2 linked regions of the Homo sapiens genome follow. The protein of the gene in region 1 purifies or fractionates together with the protein of each later gene. This does not show direct contact. Each region holds a gene or a part of one and is shown in the gene's direction. Other genes may lie near its edges. The genes, in order: ICMT and RAD51D.

The links.
Region 2: the proteins of ICMT (region 1) and RAD51D purify together in Homo sapiens (affinity purification with mass spectrometry; 2 studies listed by BioGRID and IntAct, with this or other methods). This does not show direct contact.

Annotation. Positions count from the first base shown.
Region 1 is NC_000001.11:6,229,356-6,233,172, reverse strand, and holds part of ICMT (protein-S-isoprenylcysteine O-methyltransferase), read left to right. Parts: intron 1-1,053; coding exon 1,054-1,271; intron 1,272-3,817. UniProt on the Homo sapiens protein: Catalyzes the post-translational methylation of isoprenylated C-terminal cysteine residues.
Region 2 is NC_000017.11:35,095,703-35,099,519, reverse strand, and holds part of RAD51D (DNA repair protein RAD51 homolog 4), read left to right. Parts: 3' UTR 1-3,817. UniProt on the Homo sapiens protein: Involved in the homologous recombination repair (HRR) pathway of double-stranded DNA breaks arising during DNA replication or induced by DNA-damaging agents. Bind to single-stranded DNA (ssDNA) and has DNA-dependent ATPase activity.

The DNA of each region.
Region 1 (3,817 bases):
TTTCATGTAAGAGTTTACTGGCCGGGCACGGTGGCGAACGCCTGTAATCCCAGCACTTTGGGAGGTCGAGGCGGGTGGATCACAAGGTCAGGAGTTCGAGACCAGCCTGGCCAATATGGTGAAACCCCGTCTCTACTAAAAATACAAAAAAGCCAGGCGTAGTGGCACATGCCTGTAATCCCAGCTACTCGGGAGGCTGAGGCAGGAGAACTGCTTGAATCCGGGAGGCGGAGGTTGCAGTGAGCCGTGATCGCGCCACTGCACTCCAGCCTGGGTGACAGAGCGAGACTCCCATCTCAAAAAAAAAAAAAGAGTTTACTAACAAGGTCGGGTGCAGTGGCTCACGCCTTTAATCCCAGCACTTTGGGAGGCCGAGGTGGGTGGATCACATGAGGTCAGGAGTTTGAAACCAGCCTGACCAGCATGGTAAAACCCCGTCTCTACGAAAAATACAAAATTAGCCGGGCCTGGTAGTGCATGCCTGTAATTCTAGCTACTTGGGAGGCTGAGGCAGGAGAATTGCTTGAACCCAGGAGATGGAGGTTGCAGTGAGCTGAGATTGTGCCATTGCACTCCAGCCTGGGCAATGAGAGTGAAACTCCGTCTCAAAAAATAAAAGCCTCCGTATGTGGAATGCACTCTGAAATTGAATGTCTCACAGCCAATGAAATGAAATACATGTGGCTCCTGGGATTCAGGGTGGAAACCTTGGACCCTTTTTTGCTTCTCTTAGCTATACTTGTCCCCAGATGAAGGACTGAGCATGTGGCCGGGGGTCGTGAACCAGAGAGCCCATCAGCTGTAGCAGGAGAGCATCTCTTTACCATGATGCTTTCATTGTGCTTATTGGTGTTTTAAAGTAAATTGATGAACAGCATAACTTAGGGGAATGTGTTTTCTTATGAAATTTTAATGTGATGACAAATGCTGATTGCCCAGCAGCACATTTTCTGTTTCTGTCTTCGGGAAAATAGGTTAATTTTAAGCAGTGCGAAGGGGAGCTCAGGCCAGTGTTTTCACTCCCCGTGTGTCGTTGATGTCTCTCTCCCACAGAACTGAAGCAGATTACCTGGCTCAGTGTCACAGGGCTGCTGATGGTGGTCTTCGGAGAATGTCTGAGGAAGGCGGCCATGTTTACAGCTGGCTCCAATTTCAACCACGTGGTACAGAATGAAAAATCAGATACACATACTCTGGTGACCAGTGGAGTGTACGCTTGGTTTCGGCATCCTTCTTACGTCGGGTGGTTTTACTGGAGTATTGGAACTCAGGTATAATATTAAATATGACACTGCTTTTCTTTTTTTTTTTTTTAAGTAACATTTTAAACGTGATATTCACGTAGCATAAAAGTCACCATTTCAAAATATACAATTAGTGGTTTTCAGTGTATTCATGAGGTTGTTGGTCTCCTTTAAATAATAGGTACATGTTCTTCTTGGCGCGTTTCAAGTGATAATTTAATAAAAGTCAAGAGAACTAATGTAGTCCTTAATGCTTTTCACTATGTGCCCAGAACCTGGGTGCGTAAGTCCTTGGTGATTCTTGGTGCTGTTAGCTACCTGCTGTATCCCTTCATCCTGTTTCTGCCTCTGTTTGTTTGTTTTCTTTTTTCTTTTTTTTTTTTTGGTAGAGACAGGGTCTTACTGTGTTGCCTGGGCAGGTCTCAAACTCTTGGCCTTAAGTGATCCTCCCACCTCAGCCTCGCAAAGTGCTAGCATTATAGGCATGAGCCATTGTGCCTCTCCCTTTCTCTGCCCCTTCAACCTATTAATAGATCTGAAGCACCCCAGAGGGGGTGAGGACAGAGATGGGGCTTAGGGAAGGGAGTGCCCTCTGTCACTCATGTGGCAGCTTGGCTAGTTTTCATCAGAAATAGGTATTAATGGGGCCGAGGCCATGTGTTAGTGAGCTGTGTGAGCCATGGAGGTTTGTTCTGTCTCAGGCTGAAGAAAAGGCCTTGTTTCGTTTCTTTTCTTTTCTTTCTTTCTTTTTTTTTTTTGAGACCTAGTCTTGCTCTGTTGACCAGGCCAGAGTGCAGTGGTGCGATCTTGGTTCACTGCAACCTCTGCCTCCCAAGTAGCTGGAACTGTAGGCACGAACCACCATGCCTGACTACTTTTCGTATTTTTTTTGTAGAGACAGGGTTTCTCGAGTTGCCCAGAGCCATCTTGAACTACTGAGCTCAAGCAGTCTGCCTTCCTGGGCCTCTCAAAGTGCTGGGATTACAGGCTTGAGCTACAGTGCCTGGCCTTTTTTTTTTTTTTTTCCTTTTTGAGATGGAGTCTCACTCTGTTGCCCTGTTGCCCAGGCTGGAGTGCAGTGGCATGATCTCAGGTCACTGCAACCTCTGCCTCCCAGGTTCAAGCGATTCTCTTGCTTCAGCCTCCTGAGTAGCTGGGACTACAGGCGCCCGCCACCACACCCGGCTAATTGTTTGTATTTTTAGTAGAGATGAGGTTTGACTGTGTTAGCCAGGATGGTCTTGATCTCCTGACCTCATGATCTGCCCGCCTCGGCCTCCCAAAGTGCTGGGATTATAGGCATGAGCCACCGTGCCCAGCTTTTTTTTTTTTTTTTTTTTTTAAAGACAGGATCTTGCTGTGTTGCCCAGCCTGGAGTGCAGTGTTCTGATCATGGCTCACTGCAGCCTTGACCTCCTGAGCTCAAGTGATCCTCCTACCTCAGCCTCCCAAGTAGCTGGAATACATTACAGGTGTTGCCACCACGTCCGGCTAATTTTTAAATTTTTTGTAGAGGTGGTTCTCCTGGACGGTTGCCTGTAATCCCAGCACTTTGAGAGGCTGAAGTGGGTGGGTCACTTGACATCAGGAGTTTGAGACAAGCCTAGCCAACATGGCAAAACCCCATCTCTATTAAAAATACAAAAATTAGTTGGGCCTGGTGGCACATGCCTATAGTCTCAGCTACTCGGGAGGCTGAGACCTGAGAACCGCTTGAACCTGGGAGGTGGAGGTTGCAGTGAGCTGAGATTGTGCCACTGCACTCCAGCCTGGGTGATGGAGTGAGACTCTGTCTCAAAAAAAAAAGAGATGGTTCCTCCTTTGTTGCCCATGCTGGTCTTGAACTCCTGGGCTCAAGCCATCCTCCTACCTTGGCCTTCTAAAGTGCTGGGATTAGGCCAGGCATGGTGGTTCTTACTTATAATTCCAGCTAGTCGAGAGACTGAGGCACAATATTTGCTTGAACCTGGGAGGCAGAGGTTGCAGTGAGCTGAGATCACGCCACTGCACTCCAGCCAGGGTGACACAGCAAGAATCTGTCTCAAAAAGAAAAAAAGAAAAAGAAGTGTAAGGATTATAGGTGTGAGCCACTGCACCTGCTCTATGTGTGTGTGTGTGTGTGTGTGTGTGTGTGTGTGTGTGTGTATTTTTTTTATTTATGTATGGTTTTTTGTTTTGTTTTGAGGCAGGGTCTCTCACCCAGGCTATAGTGCATTGGCATGATCATGGTTTACTGCAGCCTCTACCTCTTGGGCTCAAGTGATCCTCCCACCTTAGTCTCCTAAGTATCTGCCCAGGCTGGAGTGCGGTGTCACAATCTCGGCTCATTGCAACCTCCGCCTCCCGGGTTTGAGTGATTCTCCTGCCTCAGCCTTCTAAGTAGCTGAAACTACAGATGTGTGTCATCACACCTGGCTAATTTTTGTATTTTTTAATTAATTTATTTTTTTGAGATGGAGTTTCACTCTTGTTGCCCAGGCTGGAGTGCAATCATGTGATCTCAGCTCACTGCAACCTCTGCCTCCCGGGTTCAAGCGATTCTCCTGCCTCAGCCTCCTGAGTAGCTGGGATTA
Region 2 (3,817 bases), on another chromosome or scaffold:
AGACCTCAGGAGAAATTAATCTTCAGTATCTTTATACCATGGGTGATTGGCACATTCCTGCAACCACAGTAAGATGCAATACATGAAGCTGGAAATTGCAAATTCTTGCCACTCAAGGTACTATTTGGGCATCTTCAGCCCACAGCAGACATGACCAATCGGGCACAAGCACTCTTTTTTGTGGAAGTCAAAGTGTTTTTAGAAGTTTTTCTCAATATAGCACTCCAGGGGGCCACTACCAGTCAGTTGGAGTTGGTATTCAAGGTGGAGTCTGGTTGCCGTCTCTGCCCTGTTCCCATTATGTAGTGAGTTCAGGTACTTAATACCTAACTGAGGACCCTAGGACTGCAGTTTGAGATCATCTGGGGCCAGGCACAGTGGCTCACACCTATAATGGTAGCACTTTGGGAGCCTGAGGCGGGAGGATCACTTGAGCCCAGGAGTTTAACAGTTTAAAATCAGCCTGGGCAACATGATGAGACATCGTTTCTACAAAAAAATTTTTTAAATTAGCTAGGCATTGTGATGTGCACCTGTGGTCCCTGCTACTTGGGAGCCTGAGGCAGGAGAATCGCTTGAACCTTGGAGGTTGTGGCTGCAGTGAGCCCTGATCGCACCACTACACCCCAGCCTGGGTAACAGAGCAAGACCCTGTCTCAAGGAAAAAAAAAATCATCTGGCCCATCCTGTTACTTAACAGAGAAGGTACCTGAGGCTCAAAAAGGATGACTGACAGTCCTAGTGGCAGAATGGAGGTGGGATCTGGAACCCACAACTTGATTCCTAGGACTCTTTTTTTTTTAATTCCCACATTGGCTGGGTGTGGTGGCTCACGCCTGTAATCCCAGCACTTTGGGAGGCTGAGGTGGGTGGATCACCTAAGGTCAGGAGTTCCAGACCAGCCTGACCAACATGGTGAAACCCCGTCTGTACTAAAAATACAAAAATTAGCCAGGCATGGTGGCCCATTTCCTGTAATCCCAGCTACTCAGGAGGCTGAGGCAGAATCGCTTGAACCTGGGAGGCGGAGGTTGCAGGGAGCTGAGATGGCGCCACTGCACTCCAGCCTGAGCGACAGAGTGAGACTCCGTCTCAAAAAAAAAAAAAAAATGCAAAAATTAGCCAGGCGTCGTGGCGCATGTCTGTAATCCCAGCTCCTCGAGAGGCTGAGTGGGGAGGATCACTTGAGCCCAGGAGGCAGAGGTTGCAATGACCTGCGATCATGCCACTGCACTCCAGCCTGGGCAACAGAGACTCTGTTTCAAAAAGAAAAAAAAAATCCCCACATTTTATTTAATTTTCAGTCCATACAGTTCTATTCCTGCTAGGGCTGTAACTCCAGCTGAAGGCACCACAGCTGTCACCCAAGGAGTTTCTGTGGCCATGGGAAGGTGTTGCATTCACTGCTACTTGAGACCACCACGTGACATTCCTGCAGGCTGTGCCCCTCACAGCCAGCTTCATCCTTTGGCTCCTCCTAGACCAGGACTTTGTCTTGCCTGCCTGCTGCCACTGCACTCTGTTCCGGCCACACCACACTGTGCAGTCCCCTGGTAGGACTTGGGCTAGGCTGGCTCTCCTGTCCAAGTGCCTTTTGCTCCCTTTGCTTATGTGTCTGTCTCTGCCCAGCTCCCACTGTGTCTGGTGCACACCCACCCTGACATCCTTTTTTATGCCTCAGCTGTGATCTAGATAGATGCTTACAGTAACTTCCCTGTATTAGTTATTCACTTGTACTTTCTGTTCACGTGTCTGCCTACAGGCTCCCACTTTTTGTCACTTTTTCTCTTTATACATTATGGAAGCTCAGTAATGATTAAATAGATGAATGATGTTTTAAAAATATATTTTAAAAAAGCAAAGGACTGGCTCTATCTCAGGGGTTCCTTCCATAAAGCGTCAACTTTCAATTTCCCCTGCGGGGGTGGTTTGAGACCTGAGGGCACTCTCTAGTTCTTAGGAAAAAAATATACATATACATATACATATATATATATATATACACACACACACACACACATATACACACATATATATACATATATATACACACATATATATATATACACACATATATATACACACATATATATACACATATGAGCCAGGCGCAGTGGCTCACGCCTGTAATCCCAGCACTTTGGGAGGCCAAAGTGGGCGGATCACAAGGTCAGGAGTTCAAGACCAGCCTGGCCTATATAGTGAAACCCTGTCTCTACTAAAAATACAAAAATTAGCTGGGTGTGATGGCTCGCATCTGTAATCCCAGCTACTTGGGAGGCTGAGGCATGAGAATCGCTTGAACCTGGGAGATGGAGGTTGCAGTGAGCCGAGATTGTGCCACTGTACTCTAGCCTGGGCAACAGAGTGAGACTCCATCTAAAAAATATATATATATGTTCACACCCACATCATTGAGTCCCCAGAGTGTCTTCTTACATATCTTTTTACAGGGGACTATTGTATGCCCTTCGTCTGACATCAGATGAAATTAATGTTGAGATCCTACTATGTGCTAGCACTTGATGGCCTTAATTAAAAATCAGGCATTTGAATTCCCAAGGACTCAGGCAAAGGTCCATGTATCATTAAGGCTGCAAGTAACAAAACCTAGGCTTAAAGAAGTGTAAATACTAGGGACACTTATTTATATTTATTTCTTTTATGTTTCAAGACAGAGTCTTGCTCTGGAGTGCAGTGGCACAATCACGGCTCACTGTACCCTCTACCTCCCAAGCTCAAGTGATCCTCCCACTTCAGTCTCCCAAGTAGCTGGGACTACAGGTGTGTGCCACCACACCCATCTAAGTTTTGTATTTTTTGTAGAGACGGGGTCTCTGTACGTTGCCCAGGCTGGTCTTGAACTCCTGGGCTCAGGTGATCTACCCGCCTTGACCTCCCAAAGTGCTAGGGATTACAGTCATGAGCCACCATGCCTGGCAGGGACACTTATTATCTCTGATAACAGGAAGTCTGAGGTTTGTTAATTTAGTGGCTCATTGTCAAATGGCGTAGAGCCTTTGCATCCTTCTGCTCTGTTCTTTTATGTTGGTTTTGTCTTCAAGCTTGTTCCCCTTATGAAAGCCTGGCTGCAGCCATTTTGAGCATCAATCCAGACGTGACAATATCTACAGGCAGGAGAAGGATCGCCTCCTGTGTGTCCTTTAAAGAACAAGGTGTTAACATGCCAGGAACTGTGGCTCCTGACTGTAATCCCAGTAATTTGGGAAGCCAAAGTAGGAGGATCGCCTGAGGCCAGGAGTTCCAGACCAGCCTGGGCAACATAGCAAGACCCTATCTCTATAAAATAAAATAATAAAAATTAAGAAAACAAGGTGTTAAAAGACAAAATTAAAGCAAATATAGTTTTGCAGATTGTAATTGACTTTTATTTGCAATTCTAGAATTGGGCTGCCCTCAGAACCAGGACAGGTTCAGAGAATTCCAGAGCTGCAACATAGTCTGAAAGCATTTATGGTCAGAAAACAGAAATGAGATACAAAGACAACTAATTGGTTACAGCTCTGCCTTTGCCTTATTTGAAAATGGTTTGAATAGTTGGCTGCCTGGAACCCACTGAAGCTGATGATGTGATTGGCTGAGCCTCAGCAATCTGTTACAAAAGTATACTCCTAAATTAGGTTTTCAGTTAGTTTGCATACTAAGGCTGCAGTTTGTTAAGGGCCCAAGTAAAGCCTCCTCAGGTCAATTTTTTTTTTCTTTTTGAGATGGAGTCTTGCTCTTGCTCAGGCTGGAGTGCAGTGGCGTGATCTCAGCTCACTGCACCTCTGCCTCCCGGGTTCAAGTGATTCTCCTG